Regions from separate parts of the Homo sapiens genome. Here region 1 is linked to region 2. Evidence: fine-mapped expression QTL. Tissue or cell type: whole blood. Region 2 holds a variant in brackets; the other region holds the start of a gene. All regions are shown on one strand. Distances are between the middles of the regions.

Region 1 (8,181 bases), 190 kb before region 2:
CGGCCCTTCCACTGGACTTTCACTCTGGCCTTCTTCCCTGTCCTCCTGACACCACTCCTCCCGCCTCCCCTCCCTCTCCCTCACCTCCCACAAACACACCAGAACTATTCAACTCTGAGGAACAGGAGTATGAGACAGCTTCCATTCGGCCAGGAATGGGAGGTTCCCATGTCCTTAAACTTCAAAGCCAATCGTACCCTTAAAAATGCAGCTATTTCCCCAGTTGTTTAAACACTTAGGATTAGATAGGAGTAGATGTATTGGTTTCTTCAGAGAAGCCAACAGTGGATCACATGAAAATGGAACCTTTTTTCCTATCCTTTTGAATACATTTCTGTGTTTAAAATATAATTTTTTTGGCTGGGTGTGGTGACCCACACCTGTAATCCCAGCACTTTGGGAAGCCAAGGCAGGTGGATCACTTGAGGTTAGGGGTTCGAGACCAGCCTGGCCAACATGGCAAAACCCCATCCAAAATACCCCTACTAAAAATACAAAAATGAGCCAGGTGTGGTGGTGGGTGCTTGTAATCCCAACTACTCAGGAGGCTGAGGGAGGAGAATTGCTTAAACCAGGAGGCAGAGGTTGCAGTGGGCCGAGATCGGGACACTGCACTCCAGCCTGGGCAACAAGCAAGACTCCGTCTCAAAATAAATAAATAAAATAAAATATAATCTTTTCCTTTGTGCTAGGGTCCCACCTAAGTTTATTCACACATATGATGAGCAGTAACTGCCTGAAGATGCAAGGAGTTGATTCCCACTCCCCACTTCCCCCGCTTAATACAGTGTTGTCAGTGCTTAACTGTCCTAGGCTGACCATGGTCCATGGGTTGTTTAGAGTCACTGCCTGCCTTTCTTACCTGCATTCAGCCTGCTGGTGGACTGCTGTTTCCTAACACCTCTGTACCAATGGGGACGATGTTGAAATTAACCATCAAAACTGTTTCTCTCGATGACAGAGGCAATGTCTTAGTGCCTTCTTTATCCCCAGCTACTAGCACAGAAGGAATCTGCCACACAGAAGATGCTCAATAAATACCAAGTTTAATTAAAGTAGGAGTGCACAGCTAGTGGGCTTGGGAGCCATTTAAACCTAGATACCTGGATTTGAATGCCGGCTCAGCTGTTTACTAGCTGTGAGGCTTTAAGCAAATCACTTAACTTCTGTGTCTTGTTTTCTTCACATGTAAAAGGGGATCCTTACTAAAATTATAGGTTAAGATAATGTATATAAACCACCTAGCATGATGCCTGCTGAATAGATCATTCTTGAATAAAGCTGTGTATTTTCCCTGTTTTATAAACTTAATAAGCTGTATCAAGGCAAATAAGAAGCTTGTCTCAAAAGTAAATACAGGCTGGGCATGGTGACTCCTGCCTGTAATCCCAACACTTTGGGAGGCCAAGGCAGGTGGATCACTTGAGGCTAGGAGTTCAAGACCAGCCTGGCCAACATGGTGAAACCCTGACTCTACTAAAAATACAAAAATTAGCTGGCTGTGGTGGTGCACACCTGTAATCCCAGCTACTAGGGAGGCTGAGGCAGGAGAATCACTTGAATCCGGGAGGCGGAGGTTGTAGTGAGCCAAGATTGTGCCACTGCGCTCCAGCCTGGGCCACAGAGCAAGACTCCATCTCAAAAAAAAAAAGAAAAAAAGTAAATACAGTATTCTGCTTTAGAACTAGGACCTATCTTCAGTTTTATTTTTTCCTCAAATATATAAAGCCGGGCATTTTCACTAATCCTGCATTTCTGCTTATTTTCAGGGACATATTTGGAGAAGACTGTGTAAGTGTAAAGGATGACTCTATTCTTAGCGTCACAGTGGACGGGAAAACTGCCAACCTTAACTTGGAGACACGGGTATGTAGCTGCTCTTTCCTACGTTTCAAGACATTTGGGAAATAAAGTGAAGGCATAAATAATCTGTGCTCTCACACTCAACAGTCTACTGTTGCATATTGGCATTTGCTTCCAGTGTTTCCAACATTTTTTTCACATTGTTCTTTTTATATTATTATGGTTGAAGTTTTCCGTGTTTTTCCGGGTTACTGCATAGTACAAGGTTCGCGTGTATGCCACTCCATTGCTGTCCTCTTCCATAATACAGCTTAGTTCACCTCATCCCTTCTCTAGTTTGGCATCTAGTTGACTCTCCATTTTTTAAAGAAGCCGCTCTTCTGTTTGCACCAGCAAGATCCAAGTGGATTTTCCAAACAGTTCAAAACCAGCCCGGGCAACACAGTTAAACCCCATCTCTACTAAAAAATACAAAAAAAATTAGCCGGGAATGGCGGCAGCTGCCTGTAGTCCCAGCTACTCAGGAGGCTGAGGCAGGAGAATTGCTTGAAACAGGGAGGCAGAGGTTGCAGTGAGCCAAGATCACATTACTGCACTCCAGCCTGGATGATAGAGCGAGACTCTGTCTCCAAAAAAAAAAAAAAAAAGAACTAGAGGCCAGGCGTGGTGGTTCACGCCTGTAATCCCAACACTTTGGGAGGTCAAGGTGGGTGGATCATCTGAGGTCAAGAGTTTGAGACCAGCCTGGCCAACATGATGAAACCCCATCTCTACTAAAAATACAAAAATTACCCAGGCGTGGTGGTGTGCCTGTAATCCCAGCTACTTGGGAGGCTAAGGCAGGAGAACCCAGGAATCACCTTAACCCAAGAGACAGAGGTTGCAGTGAGCTGAGATCACATCACTGCACTCCAGCCTGGGCGACAGAGCGAGATTCTGTCTCAAAAAAAAAAAAAAAAAGAAGCAACTAGAAGATTATTAGTGAGTTTCAGTCAAATTCAGTACCAAATGTTGAGTAGATAGCCACATCCATTCCTTGCCAAGTAATTTGTGTGGCATAGATGAACTTCCCTGGAGTATCATTTACTAGATCAAACTGTGGGCTTTGATGTAAATGTAGTTTACTAGACTTTCCCCAGTCTTTCACCCCAGCCTCAAGTCATCACTAATTAGGACCGTGCTGCTGTCAGGAAGCACTGCACGCCCACAAGTGTGTAGGGCGGCCGTTCTGTTTCATGGTAATCAGTCCCACCATGACCTCTGCACACACAGATGATTGTTCTTTTTTTTAGTTTGAGACCCGGTCTCGCAGTGCCGCCCAGGCTGGAGTGCAGTGGTGCAGTCACAGCTCACTGCAGCCTCAACCTTCCCGGCTCAGTGATCCTCCCACCTCAGACTCTTATCTGGGACCACAGGCACACGCCACCACAGCTGGCTAATTTTTTATGAGATGATGGTTTTTTTAAAGAGTATTCATTTATCTTCTATATAATCATTATAGACTTAATTCTAACAGTCTTGTTTGTGCCTCACTTTCAGACTGTAGAATGTGAAGAGGGAAGTGAAGACGATGAATCCCTCCGAGAAATGGTGGAGCTGGCTGCACAGAGACTGTACGAGGCCCTGACGCCAGTTCACTGAGACTGTGCCTGTATATGAACTTTGAAAAAATACTTGACTCTACTTTTGTTACCTAAAATAAAATGCATTCGTTTCTCTGGGGGAGCCTGTTTACTTTTAATGTCAAATGGCCTTTATTTCAACAGCCTGAATACTGCTAAATTGCTAATTAATTTGTCCATTATTCTAGAACTAACTACTAGATCAACTGCCCATTATTTTAGAATTTTGGATTCTTCTTCCAGGCATGTATGTGCAGCTCCCATTGAAACCATCAAGATCTGCCGATAGCAACCGCTGCTGGTTACCCTCTCCTCTGGGGTAACCAATTTGAGTTAATAATAAGGATTCTAAGTTGCACTTGAATCTTTTCTGTCTTCATCTCCACTGCTGCTGTTCGAGTCCAAGTCTACTCTCCCCTCTGAATTCCTGCAACCACCTCCATCTCCTCCCCTATAGCTGATTCCTGGAACAGACCTGGCCTCAAGCCTCTGCTGCTTGAAGGCCTTAATGAAGTCCTTGTGATAAAGATGAAGTCCAGGCACCTTTGCTTGCTCTAGCAGGGGCTCTCAATCTGGGCTACCCGTGGGAATCACGTGGGGTGCATCACAAGTGCACCTGTGCCCAAGTCCTGCCACCAGGAGGTGAGTTAGTCCGGCTGGAATGAGGGCCCTAGGTTGGATCTTAGTTGTAAAGCTCCCCCAGGTGATCCAAGCGAGCTTGGGACGAGCAACCTAAAGAAAGTCATGCTCTACGCCCATCGCCCCGCCCCAGGGAGCGGGGTCGGCCTCTGCGCCGGCGCCCCTGGCCCTTCTGTTACTCATCTACAGCTCCGTGATTTCAAGGCATCCTTCCCACCCGTTCGTTTTTAGCTCGGCTGCCGAACTTCATTGCACAGTTGAGGTAAGAACGTTGCATTACAACCACGTTTTAACAGGTGAATCCCTTGGAAGTTAGTCAGTGCTCCGTGTCCGCGGGGTTCTGCATCTGCGCATCCACCCCACGGCGGGAAAAAGAAAAGCGGCCGGCTGCGCGCGCACTGAAGGTGCAGCTGCTTTCCCTTGTCATTCGCAGAACCACGAGGTACTGCCAGGGTTTCCGCAGTGCCTGCGTCCTCGTGGGTGTTACAGGCCCTCCAGAGTGACGCTGGGCGCAGGAGGCCGCGCGCGCATCCCACGACCTCTTCCAGGGGGGCCTGGAGCAGCCCTCCGCCCCACCGAGAGCCAGCTGTGCTTCCCGCCGCGCGTCCTGAGGTCACACTCCTGCCCTTTGCCGAACGCACCTGCGCCCGCGGAGCGCGGGGTGGGCTTAGAAGGGCCCCCAACCGCTTTTCTTCCGGGAACCACGCAGCGGGACGCGGGCTCCGGACTCCCTGGGGGCAGCCTTGCTGTGGGTGAGCAAGCGCGGAGGCCGAGCTTCTTGCAAACGGACTCCAAGGGGCAACGACCTTCGCGCGTCACCAAAGTGACTGCGTGGGTGCCCACGAGCCCGGCTCCCGCAACCCACGGGCGGCCACTGCGCAGGCGCCTCTCGTGGCTGGCGGCCCCGCCCCGCCCCGCCCGGCTGCTCCATGGCGCTGTGCGAGGCCGCGGGCTGCGGGAGTGCCCTGCTCTGGCCTCGCTTGTTGCTCTTCGGGGACTCCATCACCCAGGTACGGCCGCCCCGACGCTCGGCCTCCCGCCCCGGCCTCCCTGCGGGGTCGCTGCCGAGCAGGCCGAGGCTCCTCGCCGTCCTCTTCGGCGCCCGAGACGGCTGGGCCGGAGGCCTGGCCACGCCCGTGGAGACACCGGAGGAGTGGCGGGTCCCCCAGTGGCTGCGCCTTCCGGGCCCGCGGCGTCCCGGAGGTCACGACGGCGTCCGCGAGAGCCCGGGCTCCAGGCACAGACGCGAGGGGACCCGGCCGCGCTGCCCGCCCCGCGCCGCCTCCCACCCGGGTCGAGATGCGCGGTCTTCCCCTCAGCGCCCTCCTGGGCAGCGGCCTTTCCCCTCCGGGTCCGGGTTAGCGGCCGCGGGCGACCGCGCGCTGTGTCCCAGGAGGCCCCGCGGCCAGCTCCGGGCAGAGGCGCCAGGAGCTCTCTCGCCCCATTCCCTGCGGGCACAGGTGGGGCCGTTAGGGGTTGACCTTGGAAGTAAAACGCCTTCAGGAATTAGGTAGAAAAGGACCATCCGTTCATCCAAGATCATCTCACCTCCCATGAAGGGAACGGTCTTCTAAATGCAGGTTCTTACTTCGGGGAGGGAGTAGAAATTCCATTCCTGTGTGTGTCCTCTTCTCAGACAGGACTTGCTTCACCAGGCTTTTGTGTATACGCCAGTAACTGGTAACATTATGTTTAGGCATATGGGGCAGTCAGAGCTGCCGAATTCCATGGGAATGTGTATGAAAAAGTGTTCACCCTCAGCTCGGTAACCAGCAAAGCAGTGAGGCGGTGTGGCCTTCATTTCCTCACTGACCTTTGACTTTATTTCCTGAACTTAGATTTCTGTTTAGCTTTTTTTTTTTTTTCTTTTTTTCTTTTTTTGAGACGGAGTCTCGCTCTGTCGCCCAGACTGGAGTGCAGTAGCGCGATCTCGGCTCACTGCAAGCTCCGCCTCCCGGATTCAAGCGTTTCTCCTGCCTCAGCCTCCCGAGTAGCTGGGATTATAGACGTGCGCCACCACACCGGGCTAATTTTTGTAATTTTAGTAGAGACGGGGTTTCGCCATGTTGACCAGGCTGGTCTCGAACTCGAGACCTCATGTGATCCGCCCGCCTTGGCCTCCCAAAGTGCTGGGAATACAGGCTGTTTAGCTTTTGATAGAGAAAAATCCCCCTCTGCTAAAGTGCTGCCAGGTGTACTTACCTGTAATCCCCAAAATGACCTCCTGGAGTGAAGCAATCAAAGCCAAGAAGGGAGCGCCGAGAAAACAGAAGTTGCCAATCAGAACTGCCCTCGCTGAGATGCCCGGTTACAGTCATTAGTAGTAATAATGGGCTTTTCTTCCTCCAGTTTTCCTTCCAGCAGGGTGGATGGGGAGCATCGCTGGCTGACAGGCTGGTCAGGTGAGAATGGTTTCCGATACTTGAGTTCTTATGGATGGAAAATGTCTTAGGGATCCGTCTTATGGATGAAGGATAGTTCTGAACAGAACATTCCTCCTTTATTAATTTTGCTTGCCTCCCCTAATCAGTATATAGGAGAAGGAACAGAAAACATTTACTCTTCACTCAGTCTGACCAATTAGATATTTTAGGGTTGAGCACTGATGGCTGGGTAGACTCAGACAAATCAAGGAAATGGCCAAGGCCTCTTCCCTAGTCAGGGGCAGACAGATCCAAGTCCAGCTGCTATGACTGCAGAACTTGCAGTTTCACTGCTACACCACACTGGTAGGAAGCTACTTTGCCTTTTTTTGAAGTGCTGCCATGACTTAAGACTCACCTTGTCACAATTCTACCGCACTTTGTTTTGGTTTTTGGTGGTTTTTGTTTTGCGACAGGGTCTCTTGTTAGGCGCGTCCACGTGAAGAGACCACCAAACAGGCTTTGTGTGAGCAACAAGGCTGTTTATTCACTTGGGTGCAAGTGGGCTGAGTCTGAAAAGAGCAAAGGGAGATGGGTAGGGCAGTACTATAGGATTTGGGTAGGTAGTGGAAAATTACAGTTAAAGGTGGTTATCTATTGTTAGCAGGGGAAGGGGGTCACAAGGTGCTCTGTGGGGAGCTCCTGAGACTCATTGTCCAGGGGAGGAATGCCACAAGGTCGATTGATTAGTTAGGGTGGGGCAGGAACAAATCACAATGGTGGAATGTCATCAGTTAAGGCAGGAACTGGCTGTTTCACTCCTTTTGTGGTTCTTCAGTTGCTCCAGGCCACCTGGATGTATACGTGCAGGTAACAGGTTATGACGGCTTAGCTTGGGCTCAGAGGCCTGACAACTCTGTCACACAGGCTTGAGTGCAGCAGTGTGATCAGGGCTCACTGCAGCCTCCACCTCTGGGGCTGAAGGCATCATCACCTCAGCCTCCTGAGTAGCTGGGACCAACAGGCACTCGCTACCACACCCAGCCCAGCACTTCATTAAAGTATTGTGATTTCACTCTGTAAAATGGCTAGTCGCATTTTATAATCATTACACACACAAACAATCTCTTAGAAATAAGGCTGAGTTTCGGTGGTGGTTCTGCAGTTTATAAATGCCACCTGAGAACTTTGAGCAGTGTCAGAAAGTGTCCCCTTGTGCTGCTTTGGAGCCGCTGCCTGACGCTGTGGCCTGCAGTTCTCCGCGGGTGCCCCAGCTTCTCTGCTTGGTTATGCATGTATGGGAATGTGAATACAGCAAAATGAACCATATTGATTTACTAATCATAAGTTGAACCCCAGGCGTCATTTTAAGAAAACTTTATGGACAACTTTAAATATCTACAGAAGCAAAGAGTGAAATGAGCCCATCCATCCCTCCTATGGATTATTCTGAAGCAAATCCCAAATCATATCATTTTACCAAGACTAAGAAAAAAAGAGTCCCTCTTATGTGACTGGTATTCTCTGAGGGGTTTCAAACCTACTGCCTGATGCGAATCCTTAACTGGGATTCTCCTCACTTTACATGTGAGGAAGGAGCACAGCGTGCCCAGGGTCACGCCTAGTCACACAGGGAGCCGAGAAACAAATCCAGGCAACCCGGCTTTTTTTTTTTTTTCCCCCATTACACCTACAGTACTGTGAATCCAACTGTTTTTAAGAAGGAAACAAAAAGTATTAACCGGTTTAAGTTG
Region 2 (8,181 bases):
ACCCAATTCTGCTTCTTCTAGGAGTTCTCAAAACACTAATAACAGTATTTAAGTGTATTAGCTGACTGAACGTACAGGAATGTTAAGAATCAGAAATCAAATTGGATTTTATAAAAATGAGGGTTTAGAAGGAAGGTTTTAATACAGGCGATTAAGCTGTAGGCTCCAGAATGGGGGAAGGTGTGAAGCCCCACACCTTTTCTCTCTTCTCCAGTGCAGACTCCATCCAGCACTCACTGTCAATGTTACTGCCATGGAAGTTGGTTAATCACTGCTGCGAGGTGGCCTCCAGGGGTGGTGTGGTATTGTTTCTTAACTGCACGCAAGGCTTGAGGACTTAACTCCTCTTTGTCCCTCCACCTTCTGCTCACAGAGGGTAGAGATTGTCTCACTCATCTTTGAACACGCAAAAAAGCTACTCAGTAAACGAGCAGTGGATAGATGATGCCTCCTGGAGCCTATTATTGCTTTCCTTTTTTTTCCCAAATGTAACCTTGTTTATAGACATTTCTCATAAAAGTAGAGAAAATTGCATACTACCATATTATACCTACCACCCAGCTTCAACAATGATCATCATTTTGCTATTTTTAGTTCATCTACACTCGCACCAACATTTTTTTTTTTGCTAGAGTCTTTTAAAGCAAATCTCAGTCATCATGTAATTTCATCCATCAAGATTTCAGTATAGATTTCTAATAGGAAAGGACTTCAAAAAAACAAACTCAACTACATGCCATTCTCAGACCTAACAGAATATATTTCTTTTTCTTTTTTGAGGGGGGTGGGTGGGGGGAAATGGCGTCTTGCTCTGTCGCCTAGGCTGGAGCATCACAGCTCGCTGCAACCTCGACCTCCTGGGCTTAAGCAATCCTCCCACCTCAGTCTTCTGAGTAGCTGGGACCACAGGCACATGCCACCACGCCCAGCTAATTTTTAAATTTTTTGTAGAGACAGGGTCTCCCTACGTTGTCCAAGCTGTTCTCAAACTCCTGGGCTCCAGTGATCTTCCCATCTTGGCCTCTCAAAGTGCTGAGATTACAGGCATGAGCCACTGCGCCCAGCCAATAAGTTTCTTAATATTATCCCACATGTAGGCCACATTCCGTTTTCCTCAGTTGTCTCAAAACAGTCTTTTTACTGTTGGTTTGTTCAAATTAGGATCCTTAAAAGAGTAAGTGTGGTGTTGGATGGGTATGTTTCTTATGTCTGTTCCCCTTCTTTTTTTTGTTTTTGTTTTTTTAAATGCCATTTAATTGTGGAAGAAACCAGGCCATGAGTCCTGCAGACATTTTCCACAGTTGTTTGGATTTGGCTGATGGCATCCCCACGGTGACATTGAGCACACTCCTCCATCCCGGGGTAGCAGAGGTTTGCATGCCACACTGCCTGGGCATGCCTGGTTTCAGCATTGCTTACATTCTGGAAATTGTGGCCCCACGTTAAGCACTGCAGCTGTTATTCTGCTTCACTGACTCATGGTTTTCTCCTGAACATCGTGTGTGTTCGTCGGGAGAGGGAGGTAATGGGGGAAGGACTAACGCTCCCAGGACAACCATTAACCAATGAAATGGCTGGGCACAGCGGCTCATGCCTGTAATCCCAGACTTTAGGAGGCCGAGGTGGGAGGATCACTTGAACTCAAGAGTTCCAGACCAGCCTGGGCAACATAATAAGACCTTGCCTTTACAAAAAAAATTAAAAATTAGCTGGGCATGGTGGCATGTGCCGGTAGTCCCAGCTACTCAGGAGGCTGAGGCAGGAGGATCCTTTGAGCCCAGGAAGTTGAGGCTGCAATGAGCGGTGATTGCACCACTGCATTCCAGCCTGGGCCACAGAGTGAGACTCTGTCTCAAAACAAAACAAAGAACAAAAAAAAACAAAAAGAAAAATCCAATGGGGCTGAGCATGGTGGCTCACACCTGTAATCCCAGCACTTTGAGAGGCCAAGGTGGGTAGATCACTTGAGGCCAGGAGTTTGAGACCAGCCTGGCCAACATGGTGAAACCCTGTCTCTACTAAAAATACAAAATTTAGCCAGGCGTGGTGGCACATCCTTGTAATCCCAGCTACTTGGGAGGCTGAGGCAGGAGAATCGTTTGAACCCAGGAGGTGGAGGTTGCAATGAGCAGAGATGGTGCCACTGCACTCCAGCCTGGGCAACAGAGCGAGACTCCATCTCAAAAACACACACACACACACACACAAACAAAAAACCCAGTGGTACCTACATTCTCCAACTTCCCCATCCTCTGGTCGGATAACTCTGAGGTACATTCTGCATGGTTCTTCAGAGGATCCCCAGCAAGACTGAGCCTCTATTACCCACAATAGTAACCATCCTTTGTGGGCCTTTATTATTATTATTATTTATTACCATACATTATACTTAATCTTCATCATTCATGTATTAAAACAGGGTGCCCACCCTTTGTCAGTAACACACACTCATTGTCTTTTCTTCTGGGTTTTCACCCTCCCACACTCCTTCCTGAGACCATCTCCCAAATAAATGACCTGCTCCCAAATCCCGGTCCCAGGCTCTTCTCTCGATGGAACCCAAGCTAAGACACCTTCCTGTGTCTAATAAATCATGGTTAGCTCCAGAGCTCAGCTGGATGCAGCTTCCTCGCTTTCTCGTTTTGGCACGTTGGCGTCTCCGGCACTGCTGTGTGCTTCCCACTGTGTTGCGTGGGCCCGGCGGAGCCCGCTATTCCGTCAGTGGCAGTGGATCTGTGGGAGGGGCCTCTACTCGTCTTCTGTGATTTCAGCCTTACAATGCTAGGGGTCTGCCTCACACAGTCAGGGGCCTACCTCTCACGTTTCTTTGTCACCTGTTCGGGGCTGCTCCCTGCATTTATGTCTGAACCTTTCCAAAGCTGGTTGAATTCCCGCCTGCAGGTAGCGCGAGGGTCGTTCAGCAGCAGGAGGCGGGGGTCTGGCTGCCCTCATACCAAACTCGTTCCCTCTACCTCACCAGGGTCTCAATGTGTGAGTCATTTCAACTGAGGGTGTTAGGTTTTCAAGTCCACAGGATGGAATACTTAGTGTCACAGAAATAGAAGCTCATCAAAGGTGTGCTTTGCCGGACTGGGTGGCTGCTCACCAATTCATGGGAGGCTTAGCACATCGTAATGGAAAAGCAGAGAGGGCGTGTAAGCCGGGTGAGTGTGTGTGAGTGTGAGTGTGTGAGTGTATGCATGTGAATGTGTCTCCAAGACTTCTTTCCCCCTCAACTGGCAGAAATCACTGCTTGTTCTATATGCCTACTCCTTCTAATTTCTCCATCTGAGAAGCCTCCCCCATTCTGTATTCCCTCTCCCTACCCCCAGTTAGTTTCCTGCCATCCTGCAATGCCTGAAATCGAGCCTGTTGAAGTGGGAGGTAGCCTGATAAGTGAAGATAGCTCGGAATTTCGAATTAGAAGACTCGATGATTTACTGTGTGACCCTGGATCATTCACTGAGCCACTCTGGGCCCTATTTTTCTTATCTTTTAGTTGAACATAATACATATAGGTAAGTTATAATGCTTCGACTTGACAAATCAAAAGACAGCATGCATAATGAAAAAAGAATATTGTATGTAGTAAAGCTTTGTATGAATGAGAGAGAGTACTTTTCTGCCTCAGTGGAAATAGATTTTCAGTTCTCTCTTGGACAGACTTTGATAGGAATAGAAAATGAGGATTGAACTAGTCTGTTTCTGTTGTCTCTGCAAACAACAGAAACAGAAACAGACTCAGGCTAGTTGACATAGAAAAGAGATTTATTGACAGTATATTGGGTAGCCCTTAGACTTGCCAGAGGGCTGCAGAGACAGGCGTGGGAAATAAACAGGAGCTGAGAACTGGGCAATGACCACAG[C/T]CTTGGCCAGGGCCACAACACGAACGGACACGGCTGTGACCAATTCGGAACACAGGGCAGTGGGGCTTGCTGTTCCGCTGCTGCAGCCCTCTGGAACCATCCGTGGCTCTGTGGTTGCCGTTCCTTTCAGGCCTGCCTGGAAGGGGCTGGGACTGTGGTGGGCCTCTAGGGTTTCCCCCCAGAGACAAGGCCTCACTCTGTTGCCCAGGCTGGAGTGCAGTGGCACAAACATGGCTTACTGCAGCCTTGACCTCCTGGCCTCAAGCGATCCTCCTGCCTTGGCCTCCCGAGTAGTTAGGACTACAGGTATGCACCACTGCACTTGGATACTTTTTTATTTTTATTTTTTATAGAGACAGGGTCTCACTATGTTGCCCAGACTGGTCTTGAACTCCTGAATTTAAGTGATCCTCCTGCCTCGGCCTCCCAAAGTGCTGGGATTGCCAAGTGTGAGCCAGTGTGCCTACCTGGGATTTCCACTTCTGTGTAGGAAATGGGCTGAGGGAGGAGAGACCTTATTAATAGGTGGAGGCAGCTGTGGGATGAGGCGGGAAACCTTGGAGGCTGACAAAGGCCAAGATGAATACTGATGCTGTCATGCTATTGATTATTGATCTTGGACATGATGTCCTGACAGGTCTGTTGAGGTTCCATTATGACAGAGCACCGTGGTGGCCACAGTGGTAGGTGGGACAGAGCCTCTGCTTTGAACTTAGAAAACACATGGTGTAAATCATGATATGACATATGAGGAAATAGATTGTAGCCATTATTCATCTTTTTTTTTTTTTTTTGAGACAGATTCTCGCTCTGTTGCCCAGGCTGGAGTGCAGTGGTGCGATCTCGGCTCACTGCAACCTCCACCACCCGGGTTCAAGTGATTCTCCTGTCTCAGCCTCCTGAGTGGCTGGGATTACAGGCGCGTGCCATCATGCCTGGCTATTTTTTGTATTTTTAGTAGAGATGGGGTTTCACCAGGTTGGCCAGGCTGGTCTCAAACTCCTGACCTCAAGTGATCTGCCCACCTTGGCCTCCCAAAGTGCTGGGATTACAGATGTGAGCCACCGTGCCCAGCCCCATTATTAATCATTTTTATGAAAATGTGGGAAAATGCTTTTGACATATCATTAATGAAAACAAAAGGGGAATACCATACTGTCTATACACTTGATTACAAGGTTGTAAAGCAAGTGTGGATGTGGAAGGTAATGTGCAAAACAGGAAAAGGCTGTTTTGAGTTAGAATATTGGGATTATGGGTGATTTTGATTTTTAAACTTTTTTTTTCCTTTAAGGTTGCTATCACGTACCCTTCACATTGAAAATAAATGCAGTAAGCTTTTCAATGTACATATAAGAAGGCAACATAACAACTGTTTTGATTGATGTTAACAATACTGAAAACTTCAGTAGTATCCCCTTACTATACGAAGAATTGGTTATCAGGTTCCAATGACGGAGGAGCAAATGCAAGACAGTCAGGAGAAGGTGCTGGCAGTGTGGTCACCCACCTCTCTTTCCTTTCAGAAAAGCTGGTTGCTGAGACTCCAGCAAGCAGCCTGTCTCTCATCAGTTCAATCCACTGCAATGTTTCTTTGCAACTAAAAATGACTCTCCTACCGCTGGCTCTCTCAGTTCTCAGAACATGAGTTTCTGACCACATTTGTGTGACTTGTCCTCAGTCTCAGAGGAGAAAGTAATAGAGACGGTCTTGCCTACTCCTCTGTCTACTGGACCCTTGATTCTAAGCTCTTCCTGTCTTGTATCCTATTAGCCAACAAACTCAGCTTCCACTAGGATATACACAAGAGCTGCACACTGCATGATGATACGGGTTGTGAAGTGTTGATCCATCCCCAGTTTATGGGCTTGTTTCTTTGAGAGCTGAGGCATGAGATGGGGAGAGATAGGGACGTTACCCCTCAAGATGGAGAGCTGCTTATTGCAGAGTGCTAATTAGTGCTGGACGTTTGCCACCTGTAACCCTGCTTCATCTCAGAGGGAGAGACAGATGTTCTTATTAACAGCGGCTTTAGCAGAAACGAGACATGCACAGGTTCACCACATTCTGTAAGATTATTGGGTTTTCTAGGTACAATTTGAGGGCATAGCCAAATGTTGGCCCAGTTTTCTGACCCCATAGCTTCCTGTCTCTTCTACCTAGTTCATACTTTGGTAGAGCAAAATGTAACTCACTGCCACTCTGATGTGCAGGGGAAAGTGAGTGCAATTTAAAAATTTTCCATCTTTAACATGGTCTGTTCTCCTGAGGTCCACCCACCCCCACCCACTGATTAGTGGAAAAAATTAATTCTATATTCCATCTTGTTTAAACATGGTTCCATCTGTTCACTGAATTGGCCTCTTTAGGAAACTGTCTTGCATTTGGATACAGATACTCAGTCTCTAAGACTGCCTGTCCTTCACCTCTTCTGGCTTCAAGATGGTGTCTGGTGGTATCAGAGAAGGGTTTACATTTGCTTACAGCAACAGCAAACACTTGTAGTCCTCGATGATGGTGTCCACTCCCACTCTGTTCCCTGGGTGATGAGTTTGACCCACCTGAATTCCTCTTGCCCCACTGACATCTGAGGCTGGAGTGCCTTGTGACCTGGTCTTCCCTTACGTGATTAGGGAAGCCCCTGAGTGTCTGCCCTGTCCTGCCCCTGCCCTCTTGCCCAGCTGCCCTCCCCAGCTTCTGCCATGAGACACCTCATCCTGCCATGGCAGGCAGACTGGATATGATCATGTGATCATCTGTCCTTGACGTCAACCTTGAACTTATTTAATGCTCCCTTTCCCTGTCCCAGTGCAAGCCTTGACAGGGATACGGGGGGTCCCACACCTGCCTGCTTTGTCTCCTCACTCTCTTTTTTCTCTCTCCTCCATCTACCAAGCCAGAAAAAATGTGGGCTTTTCATTTACTTCTCCTACATCATATCTTCCTTCATTCTGCTTCCAGCTAAGCTTTAATGATGAAGTGGGATCTCTCCTATGCACTGCAGGGGAACTCTGTGGGCTGAGTCCTCCAAGCCCACATGCTGACACGCCGAAGGAAGAAAGAAACTTGGGGGATCCTTTCTTTAGGTAACAGTCTGGCTTGCAAAATGTGTTTTTGCTGCTTAATGCTATTTTTGAATATAGCAACACAATATTACCTTTTTACCCTTCTCTTGGAGTTCCATTTATGACAAATTCTGATCCCCCTCCACAGACAGATAGATGCTAGGGTGAACTAGGGCAAGAGTTTTTGTATTTGTGGAAACTCTATTTATAATTCTATTCTGGGAATCTTTTACTTGGCATTTGATCTGCCTAAAACCAGACTCTTCTTCCACTGCCAGCTTAGTTTTCCTAAAATCATACTTTGATCGTGTCACTCCCGCCCAAAAGCCTTCCATGGCTCCCCGTTGCCATTGCATGAGCTCCTTTGGCTCTAACCTCCCCAGATTCTCCTTCATAGCTTTCTCCTTAGCAGGCCTGTCCCCTCTTTCTTCTTGCCTTCTTCCAAGTCTTTGCTCACCTAAATATACCACCTCCCTCTTCTTTCTGCCTATTCAAATTCCAGCATCCTCCAAAACCTGTACCAATCCCACCCGTTCCATGAAGTTCTTTGGATGAGCTGAGTAAAGGCTCTCCCTTCTGCTGTTCCACAGCACTTATTGGACACGTAGCCCAGCCTGCTTTGTTGAGTTGGCACAATGGAGGTCCTGCCTTGGAGGTGGCCCATTGGTGACTGGGAGACATGTCTGGAGACATGTCCAGAGACCAAGAGTCAAGCTAGTTAGGCAGTGCATGATAGATAAAATCCACTTCAAAGGCAAAATGTCTTCCAGAAAAGGAGCAGGAGGAGAAGGACTTACTGACTTAATTAACGAATCAGTACTCCTAATAGATTAAATAAGAAAATGTGGGCCAGGCGCAGTGGTTCACGCCTGTAATCCCAGCACTTTGGGAGGCCGAGGCAGGTGGATCACAAGGTCAGGAGTTCGAGACCAGCCTGGCCAATATGGTGAAATCTCATCTCTACTAAAAAATACAAATATTAGCTGGGCGTGGTGGCACATACCTGTAGTCCCAGCTACTTGGGAGGCTGAGGCAGGAGAATTGCTTGAACCTGGGAGGCGGAGGTTGCAGTGAGCCGAGATCACACCACTGCACTCCAGCCTGGGCGATAGAGTGAGACGTCATGTCAAAAAAAAAAGAAAGAAAGAAAGGAAAAAGAAAATGTGCCAGTGGAAGTGAAGGGTTAACCCGGACTGCAGAGCCATGTCCAGGCAGCATGTCCCTGGCCCTGACCAGGTGATATGACCCCA

The links. PIP is the estimated chance that this variant, and not a neighbour inherited with it, causes the effect.
Region 1: it holds the start of IAH1, and the variant in region 2 is fine-mapped to the expression of IAH1 in whole blood (TOPMed, PIP above 0.99).

What each region holds. Positions count from the first base shown.
Region 1 is chr2:9,469,574-9,477,754 of GRCh38, forward strand. IAH1 (isoamyl acetate hydrolyzing esterase 1 (putative)) reads left to right here and starts at 4,978. Exons shown (of 6, transcript NM_001039613.3): 1 at 4,978-5,074; 2 at 6,414-6,466. The coding sequence starts at 4,994. CPSF3 (cleavage and polyadenylation specific factor 3) reads left to right here. Exons shown (of 18, transcript NM_016207.4): 17 at 1,770-1,866; 18 at 3,343-3,528. The coding sequence ends at 3,444. RefSeq lists a silencer at 4,750-5,519 and enhancers at 4,789-5,556, 6,037-6,597.
Region 2 is chr2:9,657,674-9,665,854 of GRCh38, forward strand. The region is part of intron 3 of LOC105373418 (a long non-coding RNA gene); the gene reads left to right. It overlaps LOC105373419 (a long non-coding RNA gene), which reads left to right and starts at 2,804. Exons shown (of 2, transcript XR_922779.2): 1 at 2,804-3,164; 2 at 3,333-3,610. RefSeq lists an enhancer at 14-574. The variant C/T (reference allele first, on the strand shown) is at 3,867.